Homo sapiens: one gene and its partners. The protein of the gene in region 1 interacts with the protein of each later gene in a pairwise test. Each region holds a gene or a part of one and is shown on either strand. Other genes may lie near its edges.

Region 1 (3,649 bases):
TGACTCCCCCGTCTTTCCCCTATCCCCTTACACACCCACGATCATGCCTCCTGATCTTCGGTCTTTCTACCTCTGCTGCTGCCTCTCTGGGCAAGCCACCATTATCTCTCCCCTTGTTCAACAACCAGCCTTTCTGTGTATACTTTTCCCCTTTACGATCTATTCAACTCACTGTGACGAGAGCTGTTTTAAAGAGACCGACAATCCAAGCTTTACAAAATTTTTTTAATGCATCCAGACTGTAGATTCTTATTTTCTACCAACCAGGACTCCTTGGGAAAATGACTGACTCCAGGCGTAAAGCAGGAAGTAGTACACAAAGATGGGCCTAGACCATCTCATTATGACAGAAAGAGGGAAACTTTCAAAGCTGCCCAGGCACCATCACCTATGAAGTATTCTTGCTAAAAATGTTTAACCTGCATCTCAATCACACCTCTCCAGACCTAACTTCCAGTATATAGGAAGTTCAGGGGATAAGATACAAGTTCAATGATACTAAGAAGAAACAGATAAATACAGAATGTGAGTATTAAAAAACTAAGAAAAATAAGCCAGGAGTGGTGGCTCACGCCTGTAATCCTAGCTACTTGGGAGGCTGAGGCAGTAGGATAGCTTGAACCTGGGACGCAGAGGCTGCAATGAGCTGAGATGGTGCCACTGCACTCCAGCCTGGGCGACAGAGCAAGAGTCCGTCTCAAACAAACAAAAAAACCCAAACCTAAGCAAAATAAATGTCATGAAGGAACTGCTCCACACTAAAAGCCTGACTACATTAGGTTTTACCTAAAAACCCCTTGTACTACATGACTGGATTAGATCCCGGTTAAGAAAAAACCCAGCTATAAAGACATCCATGGAGTAACTGGGGAAACATGAATATGGCCTGGGCATTTAGTAATTAGATGGAATTACTATTAATGTTCTTAGGTGAAAAAACAGAACTGTGGTTATCCTCATTCTTGGAGACACATGCTGAAGTATTTAGGGGCAAAGTATCATAATTTCTACAACTTACTTTCAAATGCTACAACAAAATAAATGTACAGTGTGCTTGTATAAATACATACATACAAAGAGAGAAAAGGCAAAATGCTATCTGTTAAAGCCAGAGGAGGGTATACAGGTGTTCATTAACTATTCTTTCAACTTTTGTTTGAAGAAACCAATTGCAAAAATACCTATTTGAGACAACTAGGGCAGGGTGCAGTGGCTCACGTCTGTAATCTCAGCACTTTGGGAGGCTGAGGTGGGAGGACCGCTTGAACCCAGGAGTTCAAGACCAGCCTGGGTAACATAGCAAGACTCCATTTCTACAACAAACAAACAACTGAAAAATTGGAATACAACCTAGATATTACATCATAGTATGGAATTATTGCTAATTTTGCTAGCTATGTTATCATGGTTTCTTTTAAAATACTACAGATACATACTGAAGCAGTTGCAGATGGAATGATAGATGTCTAGACTTGCCTTACAACAATGCAGCAGGAGCGGGTGATGTGAAACAAGACTGGCAAAATAAAAACTACAGAAGCTGGAGGAGTGGGAGGTGCAATTCAGAGTTCTCCAATGCTTCATATATAAATTTCAAATTTTCCATAATAAAAAGTCAAAAGACCTAAATAACAAAACCTGAAAAGTCTCCAGTGACTTCTCACTACTCTTCCATTCTTGCTCTGGCCTAATGGTCAGTATATCTGGTCCTTCTCTGCCTTATCTCAAGCCACTCTCCTCCCGTTACCTCTCTATATTAGCTTCTCTACTCTGGAAAACTTTCTCCTGCCCCCAGGCCTTCAGAAACACCCTTTTCTGTTAGATAGATAGGCATTTTCTCGACGGGCACGGTGGCTCAAGACTGTAATCCAAGCACTTTGGAAGGCCGAGGTGGGTGGGTCACCTGAGGTCAGGAGTTCGAGACCAGTCTGCCCAACATGGTGAAACTCTGTCTCTACTAAAATTACAAAAATTAGCCAGGCATGGTGGTGTGCACCTGTGATCCCAGCTACTCAGGAGGCTGAGGCAGGAGAATCGCTTGAACCCGGGAGGTGGAAGTTGCAGTAAGCCGAGATTGTGCCACTACACTCCAGCCTGGGTGACAGAGTGAAAGAAACTCCGTCTCAAAAAAAAAAAAAGAAAGAAAGAAAGGCATTTTCTTCTGCTCACCATCTCTCTGCCTTATTCATTAGGGCTCAGTTCTACAGCATGTCCTTAGGGAAGCTGTTGCCAGCTCTCTAGACTAGTTGTGCTGTGTGCATTTTCTTGTCACAATAGCACGGTTTATTCAATACTCATCTTCTACGCTAGACTGAGTTTCAGGGGGGCAAGGACCATATTTGTCTTTTTTTTGAGACAGAGTCTCTTTCTGTCGCCCAGGCTGGAGTATAGTGGAGTGATCTCTGCTCACTGCAACCCCTGCCTCCTGGGTTCCGGTTTAAGCGATTCTCCTGCCTCAGCCTCCCTAGTAGCTGGGACCACAGGCGTGTGCCATCATGCCTGGCTAATTTTTTTTTACTTTTGTATTTTTAGTAGAGATGGGGTTTCATCACGTTGGCCAGGCTGGTCTTGAACTCCTGACCTCAGGTGATCCACTCGCCTCAGCCTCCCAAAGTGCTGGGATTACAGGTGTAAGCCACCGCGTCTGGCCATTTGTCTTCTTTACAAAGCCTTTCCAATGCTTAGCCCAGTGCCTGGCCTGTTCAGGTGCTAAGTAAGACAAAATTGCCATGTGTGCCATCAACCAAGGTAGTAGGATCTAGGGGTCCCAAGAAGAAATGTGAAAGGTGGCCTCTGATTTCCATTTTTTTTTTTTTTTTTGAGACGGTGTTTTGCTCTTGTTGCCCAGGCTAGAGTGCAACGGTGCGCTTGGCTCACCACAACCTCCGCCTCCCAGGTTCAAGCAATTCTCCTGCCTCAGCCTCCCGAGTAGCTGGGATTACAGGCATGCACCACCAACGCCTAGCTAATTTTTTTGTATTTTTTCAGTAGAGACGGGGTTTCTCCATATTGAGGCTGGTCTCGAACTCCTGACCTCAGGTGATCTGCCCGCCTTGGCCTCCCAAAGTGCTGGGATTACAGGCGTGAGCCACTGTGCCCGGCCTCTGATTTCCCTTTTTGAGATGGAGTCTCCCTGTCGCCCAGGCTGGAGTGGAATAGTGCGATCTCGGCTCACTGCAACCTCTGCCTCCTGGGTTCAAGCGATTCCCATGCCTCAGCCTCCTGGGTAGCTGGGACTACAGGTACGTGCGCCACCACACCATTTTTTTTTTTGAGATGGAGTTTCGCTCTTGTTGCCCAGGCTGGAGTGCAATGGCACAATCTCGGCTCACTGCAACCTCTGCCCCTACTGGGTTCAAGCAATTTTCAAGCAATTTTTCTGCCTCCGCCTCCCGAGTCACTGGGATTATAGGCACCCACCACGCCCAACTAAATTTTGTTATTTTTAGTAGAGACAAGATTTCGCCATGTTGGCCAGGCTGGTCTCGACTCCTGACATCAGGTGATCCACCCACCTCGGCCTCCCAAAGTGCTGGGATTACAGACATGCGCCACAGCGCCCAGCATTTTTGTATTTTTAGTACAGATGGGGTTTCACCATATTGGTCAGGCTGGTCTTGAACTCCTGACCTTGTGATGCGCCCACCTT
Region 2 (3,649 bases), on another chromosome or scaffold:
CTCAGGTGATCCACCTGCCTTGGCCTCCCAAAGTGCTGGGATGACAGGTGTGAGCCACCGTGCCTGGACACCCAGGCTGTTTCAGACTCCTGGACTCAAGTGATCCCTCCGCCTCCGCCTATCAAAGTGCTGGGATTACAGGCATGAGCCACGGCACCCAGCAAGGCAGCCTCTTTCATGAGCCACTAGGTTCTGGGGGGTCTCAGTCCTGGTTAAGCCCTTTGATGAGTGGGGCTTGAGGTCTTACTCCATTTACTGGTTTGAACCTGGAGAAGCCTTTTGTCTTAAACAGTTTTTGTTTCTAGGGACATGGATGCCCCATTGACTCCTGGGGAGATCCTGGTCTGGTGGGGAGGAGGCCCTGGAGAGCCCCCCACCTAACTTTGGCCTCATCCTCTTGTGGTTTCTTTCTTTCTTTTTTTTTTTTTTTGAGACGGAGTTTTGCTCTTGTTGCCTAGGCTGGAGAGCAATGGCGCGATCTTGGCTCACTGCAACCTCTACCTCTCGGGTTCAAGCGATTCTCCTGCCTCAGCCTCCTGTGATTTCTTCGGAGCCCCCTACAGTTTCTCTTTATAGCAGTTTTCACAACTTGTAAATAGGTGTTTTTTTCTTTATTTGAATTTTAAAAATTGTGGTGAAGTATACATAACATAAAATTTACCATTTTTAAGTGTACAGTTGAGTGGCGTGAAGCACTTTCACAGTGTTGTGCAACCATCACCACCATCCATCTCCAGAACGTTCTCATCTTCCCAAACTGAAACTCTGTTCCCATTAGATGCCAACTCCCCTCCCCCATCCAGTGGCGGCGGCCACCATTCTTACCATTCTTTCTCCTTTTTTTTTTTTTTTTGAGATAGGGTCTCACTGTCGCCCAGGCTGGAGTGCAGTGGCACGATCTTGGCTCACTGCAACCTCAGCCTCTTGTGTAGCTGGGATTACAGGCACACGCCACCACACCCAGCTAATTTTTGTATTTTTTTGTAGAGACGGGGTTTCACCATGTTGGCTAGTCTGGTGTCGAACTCCTGGCCTTAAGTGGTTTGCTTACCTCAGCCTCCCAAAGTGCTGGGATTACCGGCATGAGCCACCGTGCCTGGCCTAGTTTTTGTATATTTTATTTTATTTTATTGAGACAGAGTTTTGATGTTGCCCAGGCTGGAGTGCAATGGCGCGATCTCGGCTCACTGCAGCCTCTGCTTCCTGGGTTTAAGAGATTCTCCTGCCTCAGCCTCCCGAGTAGCTGGGATTACAAGCGCCTGCCACCATGCCCAGCTAATTTTTGTATTTTTAGTGGAGACGGGGTTTCACCATGTTGGCCAGGCTGGTCTCGAACCCCTGACTTCAGGTGATCTGCCCACCTCGACTTCCCAAAGTGCTGGGATTACAGGCGTGAGCCACTGTGCTTGGTCTAATTTTTGTATTATTGTTATTATTTTTGAGACAGAGTCTCGTTATGTCTCCCAGGCTGGAGTGCAATGGCACGATCTCGGCTCACTGCACCTCTACCTCCCGGGTTCAAGCGATTCTCCTGCCTCAGCCTCCTGAATAGCTGGGATTACAGGTCTGGCTAATTTTTGTATTTTTAGGAGAAACGGAGTTTCGCCATGTTGGCCAGGCTGGTCTCGAACTCCTGAGCTCAAGCGATTTGCCTGCCTCGGCTTCCCAGAGTGCTGGAATTACAGCCATGTGTAATCCCATGGTGGCAATGTTGAGCCACCTTGCCCTGCCAACCATTTTACTTTCTTTCTGTGAAACCGAATACTCTTAAGTACCTCATGTAAGTGAGATCATCCAGTATTTGTCATTTTGTGTCTGGCTTATTTTTAGCATAGTATTTCCAAGGTTCATCCATGTTGCAGCATGTGTCAGAACTAACTTCATTCTTAAGGCAGAATAATATTCTCTTATTTGCATGTATCTACCACATTTTATTTATTCATTCAGCGACGGGCAGCAGCCTGTAGATAGTTTTGTTTTCATGTATTGAATGGTCCTTTCCCCCAGTGGAGTGAGTAAATGCATCCGGAAGCAGAATTCTGTTGTTTCCCATTCATCACTGTGTGCCAGGTGTCTGAGAAGGGGGTCTTATAGGAGCCCACGCAGAAACCAAGCTCACCTCAGTCTGGGTGTGGGGCAGTCAGGGAAGGCATTCTGGAAAATGTAGCTGACTCGAAATAAGCACCTATTGAAAATAGTGTGCTGAGCCCTGGAACATTAAAAATGTGTTCCTATGTGGAAATCAGAAATGTATGGGTCCCAGAAGAGAACTTGTGGGTCAGCCTGCTTTCCAGAGAGTGCCGAGGCCCTTTGAATGGTGAACATTATGCAAGCATTCTTGTATGGCCAGTGGCCAGCAGGGAGGAGGGCAGAGAATGACTGTGCCTCCGGGAAGCCGGCGTCAACTTCCCGACACGCTTCAGGATCATCTCTTTGTATAGAACCATGGGATGGATCGCTGCAGGACCTACTGGAAAAAGGAGGTCATCTCCAGGACTCTTTCCATGGGTCCTTTGTGTCTTGCAGAACTTTTTTCGGCAGGTGTTGTTTACATATGGTTCAGAGCTTAAAGAACAGCTGTGTTCCAGGCCAGGGCAGAAAGCACAGGCCTGTCTGGGAGGGGCATCATCACTCCTGCCTGCCTGCCCAACCGACCTGTCGGTGGACTGAATGGGCCAAGTGTTCAGAAGTCCTTGGGAAGAGGATAGTGTCCTGAATCATAATGTGGTATTTTCTGGTTTTTTGTTTGTTTGTTTGTTTTTGGTAAAATGTTAATTGCAGAAGTATACAGGTTATTTTATTTATTTATTTATTTTTTTTTGAGGTGGAGTCTTGCTCTGTTGCCCAGGCCGGAGTGCAGTGGCATGATCTCGGCTCACTGCAACCTCCACCTCCCAGGTTCAAGCAATTCCCCTGCCTCAGCCTCTTGAGTAGCTGGGAGTACAGGTGCATCCCGCCACGCCTGGCTAATTTTTTTTTGTATTTTAGTAGAGATGGGGTTTCGCCTTGTTGCCCAGGCTGGTCGCAAACTCCTGAGCTCAGGCCATCTGTCCACCTCAGCCTCCCAAAATGCTAGAATTACAGGCGTGAGCCACTGCGCCTGGCCCATACTTTAAAAAAAAAAAAAAAAACAAAATTAAAAGCCAAGTGTTTGAAGAGAAATGAAAGCTTTTCCCCAATGTCCCAGGCAGTAACCATTATTGATAAATTTGCTTTGTTTATCCTTCTAGGCTCAGTGCACGTATAAATATGGCCTCATGTAGGGAGGTTTTTTAAAAAACAAAAATGGGATATACTATATTGTATTGCAACTTGGCATTTTCAAAATATCACAGTATTTTTCCATACGTATTTTTAAGCGTAACTTCTCTTATTTTTATTTTCAGTAATACTTTTTTTTTCTTCCTTAGGGATGTGGGGGTGGGTCTCGCTATGTTGACCAAGCTTGTCTTGAACTCCTGGCCTCAAGCTGTCTTCCCATCTTGGCCTCTGAAAGTGCTAGGATTACAGGTGTAAGCCACCACACCCAGCCATTTTTCCATATTCATGTGAACAGACCTGCCACACTAAGTGTTTTAAAAATAATGTTAGGTTTCTAAAAAATATACAGGTGTGTAAAAGAAGAAAAAATCGTTTATAATCCCATGGT
Region 3 (4,124 bases), on another chromosome or scaffold:
AAGACAACCACAGGACCTGGGACTTTGTCCGTTTGTCCCTAATAAAAACCACAGATACTTTCAGATTGCATTGCAACCAGAAACACATCTGACACTTGTCACCACGGCAAAATCACTGTGATTATTAGATCTTATTTAATGTGGTGATAAAAATAATATAGGCCAGGTGCGGTGGCTCACACCTGTAATCCTAGCACTTTGAGAGGCCGAGGCGGGAGGATTGCTTGAGCCTGGAAGTTTGAAAGCAGCCTGGGTAATATAGGGAGACCCCGTTTCAAATAATAATAATTATTATAATCATAAAATTAGGCCGGGCGCAGCGGCTCACGCCTGTAATCCCAGCACTTTGGGAGGCCGAGGCGGGCAGATCACCTGAGGTCAAGAGTTCGAGACCAGCCTGGCCAACATGGTGAAACCCCATCTCAACTAAAAATACAAAAATTAGCCAGGTGTGGTGGCACGTGCCTGTAATCCCAGCTACTCAGGAGGCTGAGGCAGGAGAATCGCTTGAACCCATGAGGTGGAGGTTGCAGTGAGCCGAGGTCGCACTACCGCACTCCAGCCTAGGCCACAGAGTAAGACTCCAACTAAAAAAAAAAAAAAAAAAAAGGGAGGCCGGACACGGTGGCTCACACCTGTAATCCCAGCACTTTGGGAGGCCAAGGCAGGTGGATCACCTGAAGTTGGGAGTTCGAGACCACGCTGACCAAGGTGGAGAAACTCCATCTCTACTAAAAATACAAAATTAGCCAGGTGTGGTGGCACATGCCTGTAATCCCAGTTACTCAGGAAGCTGAGGCAGTAGAATTGCTTGGACCCGGGAGGCGGAGGTTGCAGTGAGCTGAGATTGCGCCATTGCACTCCAGCCTGGGCAACAAGAGCGAAACTCCGTCTCGGAAAATAAATAAAAAAATAAATAAACAAACAAACAAATAAAATAAGAGAAATAAAATAAAAACAGCTGCTACATTTATTTCCTGGAAAGCACCTATCACTAACGGAGATGATCCCACTTTACAATTGTGATTACTTTCTCATCTGGGACCCCCGCCCAGATGACTGTGGGCTCCCCGAGAGCAGATGCGAGTTCTTCTGGCCCCCTGCAGACAGTAGGTGCTCACACTTGCTGAACGTGACCGCAAGGGTTGGGAAGAGAGCGCATGGGTGCGGGGCGACCCGGGGACTTTCCCGGTGCTGCGGGGCAGGACTCCGAAACCGTGACCTCACGTCCCACACCCACCCGGGACGCGGAAGGGGCGGCGCGCTTCCTTCCCAGGGCGCGGGCCGCGGGGTGGAGCCAGCGCCCTCAGCGCGCTACGGTCCGCGGGCAACTCCGCAGAAGCCCCAGCCCCCAGGACCCCAGGACCCAGTGGCGCAGCCGGCAGCCCCGGATCCCTGGTAGGTGGGGAAGGGGCGAGGACGGGCCTGAGGTGGAGAAGGTGTCGGGGGTGTGGGGGGTGGCCCTGAGCCCGTGCCGCTCGCCAGGGCTCCAGGCCACCTGGCCTCCCTCTTAGGGCCCCGGTGCGGAGGAGGGGGCCTGGCGCCGCGCGTTGGGAGGTTGACGTTCCCCTCAACCTCCAGCTCCCCGCGCTGGTGGCCCAGATCCTCCCCCACTGTCGGGATCCTCCCCAGCACCCTGGCTTCCTCCCCGACAGCCTGACCCCTCCCCCAAACCCCAGATTCCTCCCGGACACCCCAGATTCCTCCCCAACACCCAGGATTCCTACCTGAAACCCCATATTCCTTCTCACCCCAAATTCCTGACACCCAAGCTTCCTACCTCACACCCCATATTTCTCTCAACGCCCTGAATTTCTCCCTGACACCCAAGGTCCCTCCCTGATACCCCAAATTCCTCCGTGACACCCAGGACCCCTCTCTGACACCCTGGATTCTTCCCCAACACCCAGGATCCCTCCCGAATACCCCAGATTCCTCCCAGACACCCCAAATTCCTCCCTGACACCCCAAACTCTTCCCTGACACCCAGGATCCCAACCTCACACCCTGTACCACCACACACCTTCTTCCTTTCTCCCCCTCCTAACGGTTATCCAGCCACATGGGCTTCCTTACTGTTCCTCCAGCTCACCAGGCGCAGTCCTGCCCCAGGGCCTTTGGGCAGGTGGCTTCACCTTCCAGAAGCTTTCCTCCCTGATCTCCACCCAGCCTCCTCCCTCAGCTCCTTTAGGTCTCAGCTCAATGTTACCTCCTGTCCCCAAAGGCCTCCCTTGACCACCGTGGTCCCCTGTAGCCCCTTCCCAGCCAGTCTCTCAGAGCCACACAGCCCCCGGCTCATGGCTTTCACGTTACTTTTCATTCTCTGAAATGATCTTGGGTTATTTTCTCGCTTACTGTTGGTCTCCCTGAACCAGACTGGGAGCTCTGTGAGGGTAGATGTGCCTGCCTTGATATGCAGTGGCACTTTGAACAGTTCCTGGACCTAGTAGGTGCTCAATAAATGCATATTCGATGCATGAAAGGCTGCATGAGAGTGTGGGAAGGAGAGTGGGAGAGGTGGTTAAAACATTTAAAAAGGACAAGGTGGGAGGATCACTTGAGCCCAGGAGTTCAAGACAAGCCTGGGCAGCATAGCGAGACTCCACCTCTACAAAAAAATTCAAAAAGAAAGTTAGCCGGGTGCAGTGGTTTATGCCTGTAATCCCAACACTTTGGGAGGCTGAGGCAGGTGGATTGCTTGAGCCCAGGATCCTGGGTAACATGGGTGAGACTCTGTCTCTACCAAAAATACAAAAATTAGCCAGGTGTGGTGCCGCACACCTGTAGTCCCAGCTACTCGGGAGGCTGAGGTGGGAGGATCACTTGAACCCGGGAGTTCAAGGCTGCAGTGAGCCGTGATCCCACTACTGCACTCCAGCCTGGGTGACAGAGTGAGACCCTGTCTCTAAAAAAAATGAAATGGGGCTGGGCAGGTGGCTCACGCCTGTAATCCCAGGCAGATCACCTGAGGTCAGGAGTTTGAGACCAGCCTGACCAACATGGCGAAACCCTGTCTCTACTAAAAATACAAAAATTAGCGGGGCGTGGTGGTGCATGCCTGTAATCCCAGCCACTCAGGAGGATGAGGCAGGAGAATCACTTGAACCCAAGAGGCGGAGGTTGCAGTGAGCCCAGACCACGCCACTGCACTCCAGCCTGGGCGACACAGCAAGACTCTGTGTCAAAAAAAAAAAAAAAAAAAAAAAGAAATGAAATTAAAAATCAAAAATTTTTTTAAAAAGGAAGAGGAAGAGAAAAAGTCTGCCAATATTTATTGTCACACTAATATTATTATATCAAGCTCTTGCTCCTTGCTGGGCACTGATCTAAACTTTTTAACCATATTTTCGCATGAAAGCTTCAAAACAGACTCCCATTCATCCTAAGTACCAGTTCATGTGGGTGTTATAAATGAGGAAGCTGAGGCTGAGAAACAGACCACACAAGCCGGCAGGTGGCAGAGCCAGAACCCTCCTACCCCATGGGTGTTTTTGTCCCGCCAGGCGCCTGCTCTTCAGAGTGAGGAGTGGACTTTGTCCCAGCCATGGACAGTGAGAAATGAAACTTGCTGGGTCTCGAGAAGGTGGAGGTGGCAGTGGGCAGGGGAGGCGGGCGGGGGAAGCTGGGGCAGTCACTGAAATAGAGTTGAGTTCAGGCCCGGGGGGGCAGAGAGAATGAGAAGAAAGACCACGTGATTTTAGAGATTTGCCAGGCATTCAGGTGGAGATGGTCCTGCCTTGATGATTCTAAGTCTGGCTGGCTTTGTCGTGTTTTCTGCAAAACTCCCCTGAGTCCTTCTTGCAAGGAGGTTTCAGTCTTGCATGCTAATGTTTGTGGGGCATGCGTGTGCCAGGCACTGCTTTAAGAGTCCTATACAGGCCGGGCGCAGTGGCTCATGCCTGTAATCCCAGCACTCTGGGAGGCCAAGGCAGGCGGATCGATTGAGGTCAGGAGTTCGAGACCAGCCTGGCCAACAGCCTGAAACCCTGTCTCTACTAAAATTACAAAAACTAGCAGGGCGTGGTGGCTAACGCCTGTAATCCCAGAATTTTGGAGGCCAAGGCAGGCGGATCACGAGATCAAGAGATTGAGACCATCCTGGCCAACATGGTGAAACCCCGTCC

Evidence for each region.
Region 2: the proteins of SRSF4 (region 1) and PRRC2B interact in a two-hybrid assay, tested with the Homo sapiens proteins (one large-scale study listed by BioGRID).
Region 3: the proteins of SRSF4 (region 1) and TICAM1 interact in a two-hybrid assay, tested with the Homo sapiens proteins (one large-scale study listed by BioGRID and IntAct).

Annotation. Positions count from the first base shown.
Region 1 is NC_000001.11:29,150,798-29,154,446, forward strand, and holds part of SRSF4 (serine/arginine-rich splicing factor 4), read right to left. Parts: intron 1-3,649. UniProt on the Homo sapiens protein: Plays a role in alternative splice site selection during pre-mRNA splicing. Represses the splicing of MAPT/Tau exon 10.
Region 2 is NC_000009.12:131,400,549-131,404,197, forward strand, and holds part of PRRC2B (protein PRRC2B), read left to right. Parts: intron 1-3,649.
Region 3 is NC_000019.10:4,828,888-4,833,011, reverse strand, and holds the start of TICAM1 (TIR domain-containing adapter molecule 1), read left to right. Parts: upstream 1-1,299; 5' UTR 1,300-1,398; intron 1,399-4,124.